2 separate regions of the Homo sapiens genome follow, and region 2 is linked to region 1. A link means that fine-mapping ties the variant in region 1 to the expression of a gene that starts in the linked region. Tissue or cell type: thyroid. Region 1 holds a variant in brackets; the other region holds the start of a gene. All regions are shown on one strand. Distances are from middle to middle.

What was found. PIP is the estimated chance that this variant, and not a neighbour inherited with it, causes the effect. A credible set is the group of variants that fine-mapping cannot tell apart.
Region 2: it holds the start of GJA5, and the variant in region 1 is the best candidate, but not a certain one, in a credible set for the expression of GJA5 in thyroid (GTEx, PIP 0.80).

What each region holds. Positions count from the first base shown.
Region 1 is chr1:147,811,844-147,822,010 of GRCh38, forward strand. No RefSeq gene overlaps it. Among named protein-coding and RNA genes, the nearest start is that of GJA5, 56 kb to the left of the region's middle. The variant A/T (reference allele first, on the strand shown) is at 5,080.
Region 2 is chr1:147,756,350-147,766,516 of GRCh38, forward strand. GJA5 (gap junction protein alpha 5) reads right to left here and starts at 4,253. Exons shown (of 2, transcript NM_181703.4): 1 at 4,150-4,253; 2 at 1-2,922. The coding sequence starts at 2,889. The coding sequence ends at 1,813. The region is part of intron 1 of LOC102723321 (a long non-coding RNA gene); the gene reads left to right. RefSeq lists a silencer at 2,032-2,326.

The DNA of each region.
Region 1 (10,167 bases):
TCACTCTTCAATTATTTATTCAATGCCTGTGTATAAAACACCACCATAATACTGTCCTACGTGTCTGCAGAGCTGACAGTGTCCAGCCCCCACTAGACAACCTCATGCCCTTCCTCAGATGTCACTCTACAGGAAGCTGCTCACCCAGCCCATACACAGAGACTAGCGAGATGACCCAGAGGTAAACTCCAGATCAGTGTGTCTCTCATGCTGATTTTTAACTTCAGATGAACTTGCAGGACCAAGGGAGCCTGCAGGAGGAATGATCTCCAGGAACCACCACCCCTTCCAGGAGCCACCGTTTAAGGGCTTGAGAATGGCCCTCTCTTCCCCTGCCAACTGTTCTTTGATCCTCTAGAAGAGTGTTTTTTAAACACAGCAAATCACAGCTCATTAGTGAGACATGAAATCAATTTAGTGAGCTGAAATCACCATATTTTATCTTAAAAGAGAAAAGAAAATAGTTTGCGTTGCACAAAGTAAAGGTGAGTATTGTTTTATAAAACTTCTCTTTCGGTTGTGTGTGTGTGTGTGTGTGTGTGTGTGTGTATTCTGGGTGGAGTATTGAGTGTATTTTTTGCTGTTATGACACAGAATTTACCCATCAAAGAAAAGCACCTATTATAAGCTGTGGCAGAGGGTCTTCCAAAGGCGGTTGTCCTACCCACTCAACAAGGACAAGCTTGGGGTTCATGAATCATGGGATGTGAACTGTGAGGACCTGACAGTCACCTTAGCTCGTGGGTATCAGGGCATCCAGAGGAGTTTGATTTGAGAGTGGGACTGATCAGAGGATTCAACAGTCCTAAAAGAAAAGGATTCTTGCTGCTAACAGTAAGGACAAAACTGAGAGACTAAAGGTAGCAGAACAAACAAAGGGTCTGGTGCATGGATTGCTCCAAAGAGGAAGGTTAAAGTAGGCTGTCAGTATTTAATGTTAATACAAAGCACCTAGCTAGGTGCTGTGGAGTTCAAAGGAACAAGATAGATCCTGGCCTTAATGAGCCCACATCACAGTAAGGTTGAAAACCAAGCAGATCTGAACCAGTAATGGGCCCACATGTGCAAAACAGCATGTTAATCAAGAGTAGACCTCATGGGTATCAACTATAAGAGTAGTAAGCAGCCAGAAGCAGAGAGAGTGTGAGCAAACTCACAGGGGAACTTGAGCAAGGCGCTAAGGGATGAGTCAGAATAGTGGGGTGGGAAAGGCATTTAAGATCCAATATCCAGAGAAATTGAGTCAAGGTGGGAGCTCCGAGCCAATGTGATGTGTTCTTGAGCCTACACCAATATTAGCCTAGCTGGAGCAGAGGGATTCTGTCTGGAGACTTGCTTTGTAGGGTGAGGCAAGGTTATGAAGGGTCAAGGAAATGGATGTGATATTATAAATAAAATAAAAATCTAACATAACCCAAATGTCAGTTTCAGGCACCCTGCCACTTGAGATTCAGATAAGATTGGCTCGAATCTCCATTCCACATCCTGTGGAAAGTTTAATGCCCTCCCCAAGATGTCTGCATTCTCTCAGAGCAGTTACTTTTTTGTGGCCTCCTCTGGTTCTGGAATTAGTTCTGTTGTTAGTGATCTCACCTTCCAGTGCGTGTAGCCCTCTTACCCAGTCCCTTGAGTGACAGTCCCTTGAAACCCAGTCCCTTTCCTTGATTTACTTATACACACATACATAGACACACACACACTACAATTTTACAAGGCCTTTGCTGACATTTTGAGAAAAATGAAGAAGGGAGGATTTACCCAGAAGCAATGGAAACAAATCAAAATTTAATATTAAAAAGTCTGTGTTCTTAACAGATTATTTCTTCCCTAACAGGAATTCTGATGCCAGCTACTAAGATAATAGTTGAGTTTTTATTTTTAATTATTATTCTGCTTCACCAAGAAATGTTACAGAAGAAGAGTGGCAGCTATAAATGACAGAGTAGGAGGTGGAGGACTAAGTGCAGAGGAGGAATGAAAGAAAGGAAACAAAAAAGAGGGTGTGGAGATGATTTTGAGGTTTAAAACATTGTCAAAGGAATGAAGAAAAACAGAAGTTAAGGAAATTCAACCAAGTCACATTGCACTGACTTGTATTTACTAAACTGATGTTTTGAAATTCAGGTCTGAGGCTGGTAGGAGGAAGGAGTTTGGAGAAAGGAGCCATGTAGAATGACACATGGAGGTTAGACCTCCAGCCAGAGAGGAACATGAAGCATCTGAATTCTAGCCTGAATATGCTCCTAACTTGCAGTATAATCTTATTTAACTCACTTCCTTTTCTGGAACACTCAGTTTCTTATCCGTACAGCAAGAAAGTCAGATTAGTGACCCTTTGCCATAAATTCCATCATCATCTGTTTATTTTTATTGTCTTTCTAAACTTATTATTAATAGCTGAAGGAGCCACAGGAAAGAGTTCAATAATTGTGAGTGGAGGGCAAGAGGGATATCAAAACTTCTGAAAATGAGTGGGATTGGAGATGTTAGACTAGTTGACTAGGACATTAGCTAAAATGTTGTACAGTTATTCTAATAGAGTTGTATTTTAATAGAGAAAGAAGATCTTTAGCAGAAACACATACTAACTGTTCTGAGACTCAGCTCTCCAAGAAGGCCTGGTAGGTGGGCCCACACCAACATGAACATTCCTCTCTGTTATTCTGGTGTCTCCTATCCCAACTTTGGACATAGTATCTAGAAAAGAAAAATACGCCCACTAAATTCTGTCTTGATAAACCTACCTTCCAAAGAAGAAGTGTTTCTCAAAGTGTGCGCAGTTGGTCCTAAAGATGCTCTGAAAATAAATGAAAAACAAAGGGGAACCCTTGTGGGAAACCAGCATATGCACCCCCCAACATGTGACTGTAGGAGACCAGAATATGTTACCCCAAAATATGACTATGGGGAACATAATATGCACCCCAAAGTATGACTATGGCAGAAAAGAATATCTACCCCCAAATATGCCTTTTTGGCATAAGGATTATTTTGAGCTGATTATTTTGAGAAACTTCAGACACAGGAGAAATTCTGAAAACAGAGTAGAAGTTACCCTTTTGTAAGGGAAATTTATACCCATAAGCCTCCATTTGTAAGGGCATCTTTCTCTCAGTATAAGGAAGAGAAGGCTGACTAAATAACAAGAGACTTATCAATGGAGAAGACACTGACTTTAATCTGCATAACCAATCTTACCCTTGTTTCCCATGCTTCTCCTGGGCATCTCCTCATAACCAGCCTTTCCCACACCTTTCTTTCTTTGTCTTAACAGATAATGGTATTTAAGTCTGTTCTGAGATTAACTCATTTCTCTGGGTATCTCCCAGAGATATACATGAGGTATACATGTTACTAAACTTCTGTTTCTTTTTCTTTTATTATTCTGTCTTTTTTTTTTTTTACAGGAGTCTTTCTTATCTAAAAACTATGAAGGATAGAGAGAAAAACATTTCCCCCCCACAACATGTACTTGCTTTGAGTCTTGCTGAACTTCCCACACATTCTGTGCTCATGGGACATTGTAGATGTTATATGTAAATAGGGTAACAGAAGGGCAGAGACACATATTCTCTCTGTTCGTGGACCTGCTCCGTTTTCCCATCAGATTCCACTTATCAAACAAAAGTTCAAAGATAAGATTAGGAATAATTTCAAGATGGTGAGAGCAGTGTACTAAGCCAAGTAAAGGGGTCTTCTGAGCACAGGGTCCTATGTGACTGCACATGTCTCTGCCCATGGAGCCAGCCCTGGAAAAGGGTTCATCAATCACATAAATGTCTCTCCCTCTGCTGGCCATTATTGTGCTGTATTTGGGAGATATGGCAGCCATCTTCCGACCACGAGGGGAACTAGCCTGAGGACACATCTGACATAAGGGAAGAAAGAAAGAATGGTGTCTCAGTTCATTTTGTGCTGCTGTAACAGAATATCAATTTGTGGGTAATTTATAAGGAACAGAAACTTCTTTCTCACAATTCTGAGGCTGAGAAGTCCAAGAGCAAGAGGGTAGCATCAGGCATGGACCTTCTTGCAGAGTTATCCCATGGCAGAAGGCAGAAGGGCAAGAGAGGGTGAGAGAGGGCAAAAGAGGGTGAGAGAGGGCAAGAGAGGGCTAAACCACTTTTATTATAACAACGCACACTCTCCATAACGAACCCACTCCCACAATAATGACATAAATCCGTGTGTAAGGGCAGAGCCCTCACGACCTAATCACCTTTTAAAAGTCTCACCTCTCAAAAGTCCCACCTCCCAACACTATTGCATTGGGGATTAAGTTTCTAACACATGAACTTTGGGGGACACATTTGAACCATAGCATTCTTCCCCTAACCCCCAAAATTCATGTCCTTCTCACATGCAAAATACATTTATTTCATCCCAATATCCCCAAAGTCTTAACTCATTCCAGCATCACCTCAAAAGTCTGAAGTCCAGAGTTTCATCTAAACTGATTATCAGTGAGACTGAAGGCAGAATTCATCCCAAAGCAAATTCTTCCAGCTGTGAGCCTGTGAAATTAAACATATTGTCTACTTCCGATATACAATGGTGGGACAAGCATATAATAAACATTCCCATTCCAAAAGGGAGAAATAGGCAAGAAGAAAGGAGTAACTGGTCCTAACTAACTATAAAACCCAACAGGGAAAGCAACAGTATGTCTTAAAGCTGGAGAATAATCTCCTTTGACTCCAAATCCTGAATCCTGGGCACACCTGGGTGGAGGTTAAGCCCCCATGGCCCAGGCAGCCCTACCCCCACAACTTTGCTGGGCTCAGCCAAGCTTCATCTCTCTCAAGCTGGAGTCTGGTATCTGCGGCAATCCCAGCCTAGATTACACTAAAGCACCCAGGCAGTGATATTCTGTTATGGCAGCACAAAATGAACTGAGACACCAATTTTGGAGTCTTGGTGGTGGTCTTGTTCCCTCAGCTCCAGTAGATATTTCCATAGTGGGAGTTTTCTGCGGTGGCCTCATTCCCATGGCTTCACTAGTCATTGCCTAGGTAGGGATTCTCTGTGGCAGCTTCACTCCTGCAGCAAGTTTCTGCCTGAGCCCCCAGGCTGTCCACA[A/T]CACCCTTTGAAATCTCAGTGGAGGCCGCCATGGCCCCACAGCTCATGCACTCTTTGTGTCTGCAGAGTTAGCACCACATGGACAACACCAAGGCTTACAGCTTGCACTCTCTGGAGCTGGGGCACGAACCACATCTGGGCCTACATTCACCAAGGCTAGAGTGACCAAGGAGCACTGTGCCAGAATGTGGGGAGCAGAATCCCAAGGCAACCCTGAGCAGAGAGCTCATGGAGGGCACTCAAGGCTCATCCCCCCAAATCATTCTGCCCTCTTAGAGTTTTGGGCCTGTGATGGAAGAGGCAGCCTTGAAGATCTCTGAAATACCTTTGGGGTCATTCTCCCATTGTCTCAATGAATAGCATCTGGATTCCTTCCATCTGTAATCATCTCCTTATTAAATAGTTGCTTGTCTGCATCCTTGGTGTCCTCTCATAAACATGCTTCTTTGCCAGGCACGGTGGCTCACGCCTGTAATCCCAGCACTTTGGGAGGCCGAGCCGGGCGGATCACAAGGTCAGGAGATCGAGACCATCCTGGCTAACACAGTGAAACCCCATCTGTACTAAAAATACAAAAAATTAGCCAGGTGTGGTGGTGGGCGCCTGTAGTCCCAGCTACTCAGGAGGCTGAGCCAGGAGAATGGTGTGAACCCAGGAGGCAGAGGTTGCAGTGAGTTGAGATCGTGCCACTGCACTCCAGCCTGGGTGACAGAGTGAGACTCTGTCTCAAAAAAAAAAAAAAAAAAAAAAAAGGCTTCTTTATTCTTTACATGGACAGAAAACATTTTTCTAAATTTTTATATTCTGCTTCCTTTCTGATCATAAATTCAATCTTTAAACTATTTGTCTCATTTTTCATTTTACTGCAAGGGGCCAAAAGAAGCTATGCAGCACCTTTGGTGCTTTGGTGCTTAGAGATTTCTTCTGTAAGATATCCTAGTTTATTGCTCTTAAATTCTGCCTTCCATAAAGCCCTTGGGCATGGATAAATTCAGCCAAATTGTTTGTCATTCTGTAACAAGGATGACCTCTACTCCAGTTTCCAATAACTTGTCTCTCATTTCTGTCTGAGACCTCATCAAAATGGCCTTTACTGTCCATATTTCTACCAACATTCAGATCATGACCACTTAAGTAATCCCTAAGAAGACAGGCTCTCCCTACAGCTCTTGTCTTCTTCATAGCTCCCACCAGAATCACCCTTAACGCTCAAGTTATGACAATATCGGCTTTTTCTAGCCTGTTCCTCCAAATTCTTCCAGCCTCTACCCATTACTCAGTTCCAAAGTCACTTTGACATTTTTAGGTATTTGTTATAGCAACAGCCCCACTGCTTGGTACCAATTTTGTGTCTTATTTCATTTTGTGCTGCTATAACAGAATCCTACAGTCTGAGTAATTTATAATGAACAGAAATTTATTTCTCACAGTTCTGAAGACTGAGAAGTCTGAGATCAAGGGGCCGCGTCTGGCAAGGCAAGAGAGAACAAGAGAGGGCTGAACTTGCTTTTATAACAACCCACTCTGTCAATAACAAACCTACTCCTACAATAATGACAAAAATCCATTCATGAGGGCAGAGGCCTCTTGACCTAGTCACCTCTTAAAGGTTCCACCTCTAAACATTATTGCATTGGGGATTAAGTTTCCAACACATGAACTTTGGGGATACCTTGAAATCATAGCAGAAGTGTCTTTGGAGAGGTTATTGAGTCTCTAAATTAATCAGTTCCCCTAGCCACTTTGAGTTGAGTTTTCTCTTATTTGTAGCTGAAAGCATCCAAATTTGGCCCCAACCCAGAAATCTATATTTTTAACTAGCTCCCTGGGTGACTCTGATGCAGGTAGTCTAGAAACCATATTTTGAGAAACTCAGCTCTAAAATGATGGCAAACATCTCAGCTGTATCAGAAAAACCATGTTTCCACGAGATGGATCACCTCGATTGATTCAAGTGGGTGCCTCAAATGCACAGTTCTTACTTGCTTTGACCATCAATACTGCCTTTGTACAAAGTTCCACGTACCCTCTACACTTAAGAATTTCTTTTTTAAAAGTTATCTGTGATTGCTTAACATCCTGGGAACTAAATAGCTGAAAATCTTGGTTTTATATCTATTTTCTTCATGTTATCCCTCCAGGGTGATATGGGAAGATTTATTGACTTCCTTAGTACCTCATGGAGAAACTGCATGGTGTAAAATGTTTTTAGAGTCTCAGGATTCTCCAGGGGCTCACCCAATCACTCAATACCCATGCATTGATCTAAATAAAGAATAGCGGCGGCGGCTGCTATTCTTGCAAAGTAGGGTCACAGTGCCTAACTTCCCCTCCTGAGAAAACAGGGGCCCAGTTCTGACCTGCACTGTCCTCATAGAGCTTAGATCGGGCAAGGGAACAGAAGCAGCTGCAGCAGGGAGTATGGAGTAACTGGGGAAGAGAAATCATTCAGGGCTAAAATAGCGCCTGAAACTCAAAGACAGTCCAATTCAAGTGCCCAATTCACAGTGATCCGAAAAGAAAGACCAGGCCAAGGAAAAGAACAGGTCGTAACCTGGGTCAGTAAGACAGAGAGAGAGAGAGAAAGAGAGAAAGACAAAGAGAGAGAACTGGAAGTTGAGAGGGATACAACCAGTTTCCCTTTAGGGGTGCCTGTGGCTTTCCATGGAAGAGAAAGAACTATTGACGACATTAAGTTGGTTTGTTGTGGAGAAAAACACCACAAACTTCTTAGTACAGATTGAGTAATCCTAATCCAAAACTGAAATTCGAAATGTTCCAAAATCTAAAACTTTTTGATTGTCAACATGGTGCTTCAAGAAAATGCTCATTGGAGCATTTCAGACTTTTAATTTTCAGATTAGGGATGCTCAACTGGTAAGTATAATGCGAACATTCCAAAATTCAAAGAGACCTGAAATCCAAAGCACTTTTGGTCACAAGCACTTCGAATAAGGGATACTTAACCTGTATATGCATTTGTCTCTCAGCAAATTGGTAACAAGTAGAGGCTCAAATCTCCGACACAGTATATTATAGATGGCACTTTTGCTGCAAGGGGCAGAAAGAAGGGATAAAAAATTATTTTAAAGCTGTACATAGTCCTCCATAATGCACTGTCTTACATTATTTTCTTACTGCATCATGGAGAAGAATCGTCTGCATCTCTCAAGGGGATTATAGCTCCCTGAAGGCAAGGACCATGTTTTATACTTGTATCACCACTTTATGGTGAATTTACATCTCCACAAGTTGAACTGAATTGATTTGAGCTATACCATTTCCCAAAGGAGTCATTTGATTTAGAAAGCAATAAATGAAACAAGGGCCGTCCCTCTGTAGAGGAAAGCCAACAGGCACTTCCATAGACATTGTATCAGGAAGTGGGAGAACTGATTTCATCCCACCCAAATGCCATATTTTAGGCCATTATCCTTTTGTAATGAAAATGGGTGGGAATATATTAATATTTCTCCTCTTCCTCCTCTATCTTCTTAGTCTTGTCTCAAAAAGTCTCTCTTGAAACTCCTCCTTCCATAAGGCCTGCATTTCCGCCACTGGAGACTTGTTCCTTTGAATTAAGTATAGCCCTCTTGAGCCCAAAGTTTTAAAATGTAAATACCTCTGGGAAAAGAAACACATTACATCTCTATTACTTTTATATAAATGCATTTAACCCAGGCTCTTCTCCTCGTAGAAAGGACTAGGCTCCTCCGGGGGCTAAGAATGATGAAAAGGGAGGAAAGCAATGATGCCCAGAGAAGAACAGATGTATGGGGCAGGGAAAAATGGTGCTCAGGTAAAAGTCAGCCTCTGTCCCAATCTCACTGAGGTCTGGCCCTGAATAAAACCAATAATAATAATCACAGTAGCTTTTATAGCTCATTATGTGAGACTCATTTCTTCGTGGTAAAACTCCTTTACAAAGCTCATTACAAATAACTCCTTACACAGGGCTATTATCCCTTTGTAATTAAAACAATATATTGCATCCTCCACTTGGGATTCCTGTGAAACAGCATGGATAATACACAATGGCACTCTGAAAGCTTTTATTTAGTTCCTCTTGAGTCAAAGCAGAAGCTTCCAGGAAAGATTTATCAGCTAATTCCAGAGAGTTATCTCAAATAACTCACATGCAAGATATGGGAACCGTGGGGGAGATTCAAAGCTCCCTTTAGGGTGTGAAGAAGGTGCAAATGTAAGATCATCTCCAAAGCTCTCATGAAGCCAATGACGTATCACCTGTGGATTTACTGGGGAAAGAGTGAGAATTGTGGCGTGAGCAGAGAATGAGGGCTTATCTCTTCTAAGCAAGCTAATCTTTCCCTGACATCTTTCTTTTTGCACTAGAAAAATGTATTTTTTAATAGGTATGCTTTGTATAAAAGAAATTTTGAACTTTTGAAATCCACTGTTTGTTCTTTTCAAAGGGTACTAATAGTGGGCCTCAGTGACTTTATCTATAACTTGGATTAATAATGCCCACCTCAGAGGGCAGAAGTGAGGATCAAATGAAGTTGCATGTGAAGCACCTGGTCAGAGCCAGGCACAAGGGAGAGGCTCCATGGATATTTGTTAGGTCCCTTTCCAACTTCTCTCAACCTGACTGTAATCCCAGAACTTGCTCTGGGAAGCCACTGTGTCAAAACTCCTAGATCCCATTTCTAACTTCTACTCTCCCCTAAACTACATTGCTGACAAGGAGCTGCCTCTTCTAGGTACAACAAGAAAGGATTTTGATTTCCTAACTCTCCCATAACCAAATTTTCCAAAACCAAAGACTGGAATGCATGGCCTCACCATACGGATGGGTTTTTTTCTTTTCAGATATGTTAATTTATTTATGTGACAAGTCCTTCAAAGGCAAAATAATTAAGATACATTCAGTTATGTATGTAAAGAACTATCTTTTTAAAGAATGAAATTACATCAAAAGAAAGAAAACTCAGCAAAAAGTCCTGGATAATTTGACATTGGGACTGTTGGAAACAGCATAGTCATCACAGACACCTTCTTCATTCGCTGATCACTAAGGGTTTTTAGAGTTGTTGCCAACAATGTTAAGTCCCATTCGGTCATGGGCTG
Region 2 (10,167 bases), 55 kb before region 1:
TATTAATGCTAGGCAATAGATTAAAAGGTGTCCCCTCCAGGGACCCGGGATGATCAGACATTCCTTCCTAAATGGCATCCTAGTCACTTTCCTCCACCTCTCCACTCTCATTTATCTTTCCACCCAACAATAGCATCCAAGTGTCAGCAGAGGGCCCAGAGATGGGCAGGTGAGTCAGAGGTTGAACCTCCTTCTGAGCCTTTACCCTCCTCTGTCCCAACCTCTTGTGGCTATCTGTTTAGGTTAATAACTGCCAGGCAGCCGGAGAGGAGAGCAGGAAGACACAAGTTTCTCTGTGGTTTCCTTTCCTTATTTCAGGACTCCCCAAGCCTTTACCCATCCCATCAGCACCCACACACACACACACGTGCATTTTAATAATGTAATAATCCCTCTATAAGTCTCAGTTTCCAATTCCAAGCATCGTTTACCTTCATCCAAAACAACAGCAACCCATTATGGATCCAGTGAATACAGAGACCAGGCCAATCCCTGGGGAAGGCAAGGCTTTTCTACAGCCCCCACTTGGCAGTCTCATTAGGGGCACTAGGGAGACATAGGAATCTCTGCGCTCTTTAAATAAAGGCCCTGCCAAGAGAGCTGGAGATTCCCCTACTATTTCCTTGCCCCTGCTAAAGCCTCCAGGAGAGAGAGATCTGGGGGCCTCCATAGCTGTCATCACACCTCCTCTTGGCACTAAGTTGGCAGTCAGCAAAGGAAGTAAATAGGAGGGGAAAATAGTTTTCCAGTGTTTTCTCTCCATTTTTATTTTCATCTTCACAGCAGAATTTTTTTTTCCACAAGGGGAATCTGAGAAGTACAATGCTTTCTTTGTTTTAACAAGGCCTGGGGAAATTCCACTGGCCTCAGTGGCTGATGATCTGGTCAGGGTTCGAGAGAGGACAACAGCTTCTTGGATATTCCTGTTGGTAAGGCCTTCAGGGAATGGCTGGGTGAACAGCCAAGGGAGAAAGGGAAGGGATGGTTTCTATCATTGGATTGAACTGTAAAGGAGCTGCAGGGTGACAGATGTTGGCAGGAATTCCAGTAGAGTTTGTGTGTACAGTGACTCCCTAGCAGGGCTGACACCTGCACAGGCTAGGTGTACACCCTAGCAGAAGGAAAGGTTGCAACATCACCAAGGTGGGGCATTTGCCAGAGGTACATACCAGGGCATTTGCCAGAGGTACATACCAAGGCATTTGTAAAGCTGAGGCTGCTGGTAAAGTTCCAAGAAGCCCTTTTTAAGGCTGAGTAGAGGGAGGAGAAGCCAAGGGCAACCCAAGGCCATCTCACCACTACTCCGAGGAATGGTCCATGGAGACAACAGATTCAAGAGCACATATAATGCAAGTTCCTTGATTCATGCTGTCTATTGGCTGGGAACTTTGAGCTCTTCCTTGGAGGAGGGAGGGTGATCAGGTCAAGGAGGTAGGAACTTAGAGAACGCATTTGGTATGCTGCTGGTATGTAGAGAGAGAGTCATTCTATCCCTCTGGCTATCCCTTCCAGGCCAGCTTTTGCCATGCTTCCCTTCTTTCCCTCTACCCTGTTTCATGAGTAATCTGAAAGGCTTCGTATACTGGGTAGAGGGTGGGGAGGGAACTGCAGTCTGGGTGGGTTGTCACCTCTCTTACTATCCCAGAGCCCTGGTTATAGTTTCTAGAATTAATGAGCAACGTCATTGAGACCCGGGGCTCAAAGGAGCCAAGCAGTGATGACAGTGAGAAAGCATCAGTTCAGAAGGGACACGTCTTTCCTCTCTGAGCCTCCTTTGTTCCCACCTGGTCCTGATCCTCCCATAAAGGAGGGTCACACTGATAGGTCATCTGACCTTGCCTTGCTGCTGGCCTTACTAAGACGTCGCTTGTCACTATGATAGCCATGGGGAAGGCGGTGACCTGGTGAGACTCCATTGGGCACCTCAGGCTTCTGGCCATAACGAACCTGGATGAAACCTTCCCCAGGAGTCTGCTCCTGACCTCGTACTTGCTCGGTGACCAGGTTGTCTGTGTTTTGTTGGGAGGCCATATTATTGCTGAAGGGATTGAAGAATTTTCCCCCAGGGCCATTCTCCAGGCACTGATTAAAGTCGGGGGGTGGTGTGCAGCTCTGGACTATGCCCACAGAGGGGCCAGAAAGCTGGCACTTAGCCATGTGCTGCCGCGGTTTGACAAATCGCTGTCTGATCTTCTTCCAGCCCAGGTGGTAGAGTTCAGCCAGGCTAAGGAGGAGGGACAGTGCAGCCACAGCCAGCATAAAGACAATGAAGACATTCTTCTCTGTGGGCCGGGATACGTAACAGTTGACCGGGTGGGGACAGGGACTCCTGCGGCAGACATGCAGGGTGGTCAGGAAGATTCCGTAGATGAAGTACTGGCCCACAATGAAGCCCACCTCCATGGTGGTGCGGATCAGGATGCTGCACACATAGGTGTTGAGCAGAGTGCCCTGGAGGGCAATCCTTCCATTCCCTTCCTCCCAGCAGGACAGTTCTGCCTTCTCTGCCACCGGGTACTCGTAAGAGCCAGAGCCCCGGACCTCTTTGGCCCTCTCGGCCTCCCGTAGCTTGCGCTTCTCCTGCATGCGCACAGTGTGCATGGCGTGGCCCATGTACACCAGAGAGGGCGTGGAGACGAAGATGATCTGCAGCACCCAGTAGCGAATGTGGGAGATGGGGAAAGCCTGGTCGTAGCAGACATTCTGGCAGCCAGGCTGAATCGTATCACACCGGAAATCAGCCTGCTCATCCCCCCAGGAAGACTCAGCAGCTGTGCCCAGCACGAGCATACGGAATATGAAGAGGACAGTGAGCCAGACCTTGCCTACCACGGTCGAGTGCTTGTGTACTTCCTCCAGGAAATTTCCCAGGAAGCTCCAATCGCCCATCTTGGCACAGCCAGGGAACAGATGCCAAAACTTCTGCAAATGGGAGAGAGAGAAAGAGAGAAAAGAAGAAGGATGTTCTGTGAAGGTCTGGAATGTCTATCATGTTCTGGGATTCCACTGATCCATCCATCCAATGGGTTCTTTAAGAAAATGCAACTTAGAAGTCAAAGCAACCAACGAAAAGCTCGCTCTCCTTTCCCAGCAAAAATAAAAAGAAAGAGAAGATTCAAAGTAGCCATATTAGCAAAATTAGAGCATGGCTCCCACACTTTAACGGATCTAGAAATCGTGGTGTGTGTTACAATATGGATTCTGCTCTTGCCCCAGTAATTCTACTTCAGGAGGTCTGGGATGGCCCCCAGGAATCTGGATTTACAACAAGCAGCCCAAGTAATTCTGATGCAGGCGGTGAGGGACCGCACCTGGAGAAACACGAGTATTAAAAAGAACACAAGACTGGGGTCTGCAAATGTGACTCTGGGCATTTACCTCACTGAGTCTGTTTCTTCATTTATCGAATGGGGATGGGAATAGCTACACCAGAGAATTCTGAGGATTAAATGATATGAGGTGTGTGATATTCTGAAAATCATTCCACAACTGTTCCAAATGTTTAAATGGCTGTTGGATGGAAAAGGAATTTTTTTATGGCTCCAGAGGGCAGAACTAGGTGGAGGAGGAAAGAGTGAGGATGGGATTGGCAAATTTGGCCCCTCAGGAAGCACTCTGCAAAAATCAGAACCATCCAGCATGGACCAGCTGTGTTGGGAGGTGGCAAACAAAAAGTGTGCTTTGGTCACACCAGCTAACAGTATCACAGATGAGTGCTCACTTCCCCTGGCTGGTAAGGCAATGTTGATCTCCCATGCCTCGGTGCAACACAGCCATTCCAGCCACACAGCTCAGCTCGCCCTGCTGCTAAGTTTCTGTGTCTCATTTAAATAAGGTTCCCACACACAGATCTGCCCACCCTTATGTCCAGAATAAATGTCCCAAAACTTTATGTCCCTTACAAAATCCTCCCTCATCTGGCCTTTGTCTGCTTTTCCAGCCTGTTCCTGCCTGTCCACATGAGTTCCTTTTGTCCAGCCATGCCAAGTCTTCCCAAATGCCCTCCTTCTGTACCCCTACATGTCCCCTCACCCCTAGCTGAATCCCATTTACCTTTCAAAACTTAACCCAGTCATTGCCTCCTCCAGCCCTCCCTCCTCCCTCAAGCTGAGCCTCTTCAGCTCCTGTGATGGCCCCCGGGACACTTACTCGTCTCCCAGTGCTTGCTGCCTTGTGTTGTAATCCTCTGCCTGTCTGTGTTCTCCCAGGAGGGACTGTTTGAAAATGGAGACTGTCTTTTCTTCTGTATCACCAGAGCCTGGCCCAGAGTAGGTGTTTAATATATCTTAGTTGAGTGAATGAAGGAGGGGCTGACAGGCACTGTTGTTTCCTACCCAATAGAAAACCAATTCCCTGTTTCTTGCCTGCCTCCCATTGGCAGGGTGAAAAAGCCAGGTATCACTTTCTTAATCTCCTCTGCAGTTAGTTCTGGTAGGTGAGGTATGGGGAGAATCTAAAGTAGAGGGAATGCTCCAGAAAAGGTTTTTCTACCCCCCAGTAAATGGAGAGAGCCTCACTCACAGTGCTCCCATCCCCCTGTGAACAAGAGGGAACCTCACTCACAGTGCTCCCATCCCCTGGTGAACAGGAGGGAGACTACTCACAGTGCTCCCATCCCCCGGTGAATAGGAGTGAGCCTCACTTAGCCCCACCGCTTCCTGCCTGTGGACAGAGTTGTATGAACCAAGATGTCTAAAGCTGTCCAGAGAATCTCAGAAATGTCAACCAGTGCCCTGAGGCCTCTGAAGCAACTCTTGAGGCTCCCTACCTCCAGAATTCTTACTTAGTGAATAACGAATGTTCTTACAGTTTAAGCCTCTAACCATTCCTAACCAACAGGATGACAAACGTCTCGGAGGGAATGGAGCATAAATATTCCTTTCTTAGAATCATAAACCTCAGATTTGGGTGGGTCCTTAGAGGTTTGTCAAATTCAAACTTTGACCGTCATATCTTTGCTGCCAACGTGCTCCTGGTTTCTGTCTGAACATTCTTCATGCTTATGGGGAAAGATGGGGTCAGGGTGGTGCATTTCATAGTCCAGGCTTCCTCAGCTCTTGAGTTGATTGTTGCCTTGACAGGGACCAACCTCCTGGCCCTGTATTCTCTCAGACCCCAGGTCCCCAAACTTGAGAGTATACAGTGTCCCTGGGAATGAGGGAGTTCCTGAGTGAGCGGAAAGCATCTTATCTCTGCTCCTCTCTATATCAAAGACCCATGCAGGTCTTGAGGCCTTTCCTGTCATTTGTGATCAGACATCTGCCCCATTTCCTTAGGTGGCGAAGCGCCCCCTCTTTCAGCCTCCAAATGTGGAAAATTGTGGAGCATGTGCTCAAAAGGAAAATGGCTGATTAGATAAGAGTTTGAATTGTCTGTCCTCTCTTCTGGGCACATGTACAGTGTTCAGCACCTTCAGGGTCAGCCACACACGTGCAGTGACTGAACTATGGTAAATGTCTGAGAAAAAGAGGGAGGGAGAGAAGGGGAGGAATAAAAAGAAGAGAAGAAAAGGGAAGGACAAGGGAGAGTTGGAAATGGAGAAAAAGACCATGTAGGGTTAAGAAAAGACAGATGCAGGAGTTAGCTTACTGAGGTTTGACAAATTTCTATTACCATCTGCTGGGCTTAGATAAATGATTCAATCTGTGTTCCACTTTCCTCACCTGCAAAATGGACATACTATTAACTCATAGAGTGCTATGAGATGATGCGTGCAAAGCACTTAACACAGTGTTCAGCAAATAAGAACTGAATAAAAGGTAGCCATTACTAGCAACAAGAGCAGTGGGGAAGGATGAGAGTAGAAGAAGGAGGGAAAAAGAGAAAGCAGAAAGTAGAGAAAGGTGCATTACAAAGGAGAAAAGAAATGGGAGCAAGAGTAGAAGGGGAGGAAATGAGAGGAAAATGGAAATAGAAAAAAAAAGAAACAAATGTCATATTCTTCCAGGATTTGGGGCAAGTTTTCCACACTCAGTCCCTGAAGACTTCTCCCTTGATCTTCTCACTCTGTCACTCATTCCTTGCAAGTCCCCAAGGAAGTATAAAAATAGTTCCAGGCAAAGAATGTGACCCTTTGGTCTAGTCTGCCAAGAGGCTTGACTGCTGACTCCTTCACTGCTGTCCAAGGAATTCCACCTGGAAGAGGTAAAGCACAGATACAAGAAAGGAACACCTTGGAAAACCAGAAAGGCAGTATTAGGAAGGATATCTTATTGGGAGGGAAAAAGAGAAACTATCTGAGGAGGTATAGGGGTGAGGCAGACCTCCTGGGCCCAGGCAGAGGAAATAGGGTGAAGGGTTTTTCATGTATGACTTCCTGCTGACGCTCAGGCAAGGTCAGAGAAACTTAAAATAGCTACCATGTACCAGATGCTCAGTTTATAATGTGAAAGGTCTCTGGCTGTAGTTACTTTTCCAGCTACGTTGGCTCCCTTTGGATACCCCATCTCAGCCAAAGAAATTTGTAGATTAGATACTCAGTGAGTTTACTGGGCGTATAGCATATAAAATACTTTGTAGATTATTATCTGCTTCTTGGCAGGAAGTGTATTAGGAGGGGCAAAGGAAGCTGCCCATGCCATGAATAAATGCTATCAAACACAATGGCAATTTACCTCACTGCTTTAGCAGTTATCCTCACTGGCTTCCTACCACTTAGAAAGTCCAAACTGCTTAACTTGCCATGTGAAACCCTGTACAGTCTTATGCTATCATTTTTCCACTTTTCCACTCACACACTCAATACTTAAGCTACACAATTTCACATGTACTTATGTGCATCTCACCATTTCTCACCCATTTATCTTGGCTTCTTATGTTCCCTCTGCCTAGAATGTCCTTTTTAAAATTCATTTAATACGTTTATTGAGTGGCTACAGGGTGCCAGCCATCATTCTGGACAATGAGGATACAGCAGGAAGGAGGGGAAACAAACAAGGGATTCCCTGACTTCACTGAGTGTAACTGCCTTTATACCCCTTTATTAACAGCAGACATTAAATACATGATTTCAGTAAAACACAATGTGTGTTAACATAAAGGAAGTATAAGGTGTCATGGGAATGTGGGGCAGGAGCCTGAATCTGGTTTTTGGGTTTTGGGGAGAGTCCTAGGGAATTGCGTTCTAAAGCCCTCTGCCACTGATACAAGTTCTGAAATCAGCAAGGCAAAAAGAGATGGTCCCTAGAACCTGGAAGAGAACCATCCCAACTCTAAAGGTTCTTCACTCCCAAACCTTCAACATCCTCTTTCAACTTGTCCTATCCTGAGATAAAGCAAATTTTGGAGGGGCCACTAGGAAACTTGTTTGGCAATAGCAACATGGTGCTTAGATAAGAGGAAGAGGGCCAGAGGAAGGATTTTGTGTATAGTGAGCATGAATCATTTTATGATTTTATTTCATGTACTGTATGGCCAATGACCAGAAATAAAGCTCAGGCACCTACATTCTGAATCCAGTGCTTCTTTTTTTCTTTTTTGAGATGAAGTCTCGCTTTGTCACCCAGGCTGGAGTGCAGTGGCACCATCTCAGCTCACTGCAACCTCTGCCTCCCAGTTTCAAGCAATTCTCCCTGCCTTAGCCTCTGGAGTAGCTGGGATTACAGGTGTGTGCCACCACACCTGGTTAGTTTTTGTATTTTTAGTAGAGAAGGGGTTTCACCATGTTGGCCAGGCTGGTCTCAAATTCCTGACCTCAGTTGATCCTCCCGCCTTGGCCTCCCAAAGTGCTGGGATTACAGGCATGACCCACCATGCCCGGCCCAGTGCTCCTTCTCGTGGTCCCCCTACACGGCCAGTGTTTTTCAAAGAAAATCATTTCAGAGCAACCCAGATTAATCATAAACTCATAGCCAGAACCTCTTCCTCTGACTCCGCAAATCTACAGCAAAATGGATAAGTCTTCTAAAATTGACCTCAGCCCTCTTTGGTGTCCCCTGAACTCCAGAAGACTGAGCATCTGGTACATGGTAGCAATTTTAATTACCATCCAGCATGGAGGATACATCCTCACACTTGGTTATATATTTCCTTAGACTTGTTTTCCAAACATTTGTCTATCAGCCAACCTGCAGATACTTTGCTGAGTCCCCTTTATGTGCCTACCACTGTTCTGAGTAATGAGAACAGTACCAAAGAGGTGCAAGGCCTGACACACACTGGGCACTCAATGGTGTCTATTAAATTAATAAAATCGGCCGGGTGTGGTAGCTCATGCCTGTAATTCCAGCACTTTGGAAGGCCGAGGCGGGCAGATCATCTGAGGTCAGGAGTTTAAGACCAGCCTGGCCAACATGGTGAAACCCCATCTCTAATAAAATTCAAAAATTAGCCCAGTGTGGTGGTGGGCACCTGTAATCCCAGCTACTCAGGAGGCTGAGGCAGGAGAGTTGCTTGAATCCGGGCGGTGGAGGTTGCAATGAGCTGAGATCACGTCAGTGCACTCCAGCCTAGGCAACAGAGTGAGACTCCGTCTCAAAAAAAAAAAAAAAAAAAATTAATAAAGTCAGGCATGATTCCTTCTGTCAAGTATTTAACAGCTTTTTCTCTCAAATGGGTAGTATGCTTCTCAAAGTTAAAAGCCCTGTCTTCTACTTTGCATTCTTATTGCATTAGGTTCTCTCATTTGGTACACAATAAATGCTTTCTTAATGATTGAAGAAAATGTTTGGCTAGCAGTAAGATTGCAAAGAGGTCCTAAGGAGGCTCAAGTCTTTCTTCTTAAGGTCAGCAGTAAAAATAAAACCTCACAATAAATAAATAAAAATAAAAGCTTACATACTGTTCAAAATGTGCTTCTACATTCTCTTGTTGGTTCCAAGAGAGCAGGATCATATTTGTTCTGTTCAAGACCGAATACCTTCAGAATGTTATAGACATTCAATTTTTATTGTTGAATGAATGAATCCTCATAACCACTCTGTGGGGTGATTGTTATTGCCTGTGTTTTGCAGAGGAGGAAACATATAAAAGTGATTCGTTCAAATAAACAATTAATGGGGGAAGAACCAGGGCTTCATTCCAGAGTTTCTGTTCAAGTCTGGTGCATGCCAGAAAGTTTCATTCCATCTCCCCTCCAAGAGTGGAGCTCATCAATTCTTAGACCTTCGAGAGGACTTCCCAGTGGAGATAACTCTGGTGTAGGAGTTAGGGGTATGTGATGTCTGTAGGGGTGTGGAGTGGATGGAGGAGTTGCAGAAGAGATGAGGGGATTTCAGACAAAGGCAAGACTGCATGAACAAATTCATTGAAATGAAAACCAGCATGGTTTTAGAGTACAATGAGCAGAGCATGGAAGGAGAGTCTGCATAGCAGGCAGGAGCAGATTGTGGAGGGCTTTAACAGCCATGCCTAGGAGTTTGGAGTCATTCTCAACCCACATGATAGGCCATGCTTAGTCCATTATTTGCTCCTGAGGGCCTAATCTGAAGCCTCCAAATGGGGTTGGGGATGTAAAGGACTGCACAATTAGTAATGTCCATGCTTGTAGCAGTCTTTTAGTAGTGGCTGCAGCATCAACTAGGTAGGCTGCAGATGACAGGTACCTCCCAGCACACTTGCTGTGACTGCACCCTCGTCTCTCCTGCTTAAGAAGGTATATTGCTAGTGAGTGAGGCCCTACCATAGGGATGCCTTGAAAATTCTCTTCTTTCTCTTGATTCCAGTTCTGTCCTGTGGAGTCACACATAATAGCCTTTCTAATATAGTATTTTACAATAATTTCTGTGTCCCCCAAGTCAGCAGCTGGGCCTTGGGCTGAACTGTAAAGCCTTGGAGGTCTCACACACCTGAGAATTAGTTGCTCTACAGGCCATGTATTCTCTCTCCCACTCAACCCTGAGCTCTTTGAAGACAAACTGCTTTTCTGTTCATCATTGTATTATCCTCCTGAAATTCCCTCCACCCCAAACCCCTTAGTGCTCAATACCACACCCTGCACAGTGTGGTATGTACTTTATAAAAACAACGATGGATGAATTGATAGCATTTAGGTCTCTCAAAACACCTAATGCCAAATTGATCAAGGCAATTATTTACCGGTTGCTGAAGAAAAGGATGAGAATGCACACAGAGGCCAAGCAACACGTTGGGGCCATGCTGCATGTCAGTGGAGGGGCCTGCCTGGGAAGCTGGCATAGGGACACCTGCCCAATGACGATGGTGACCAGA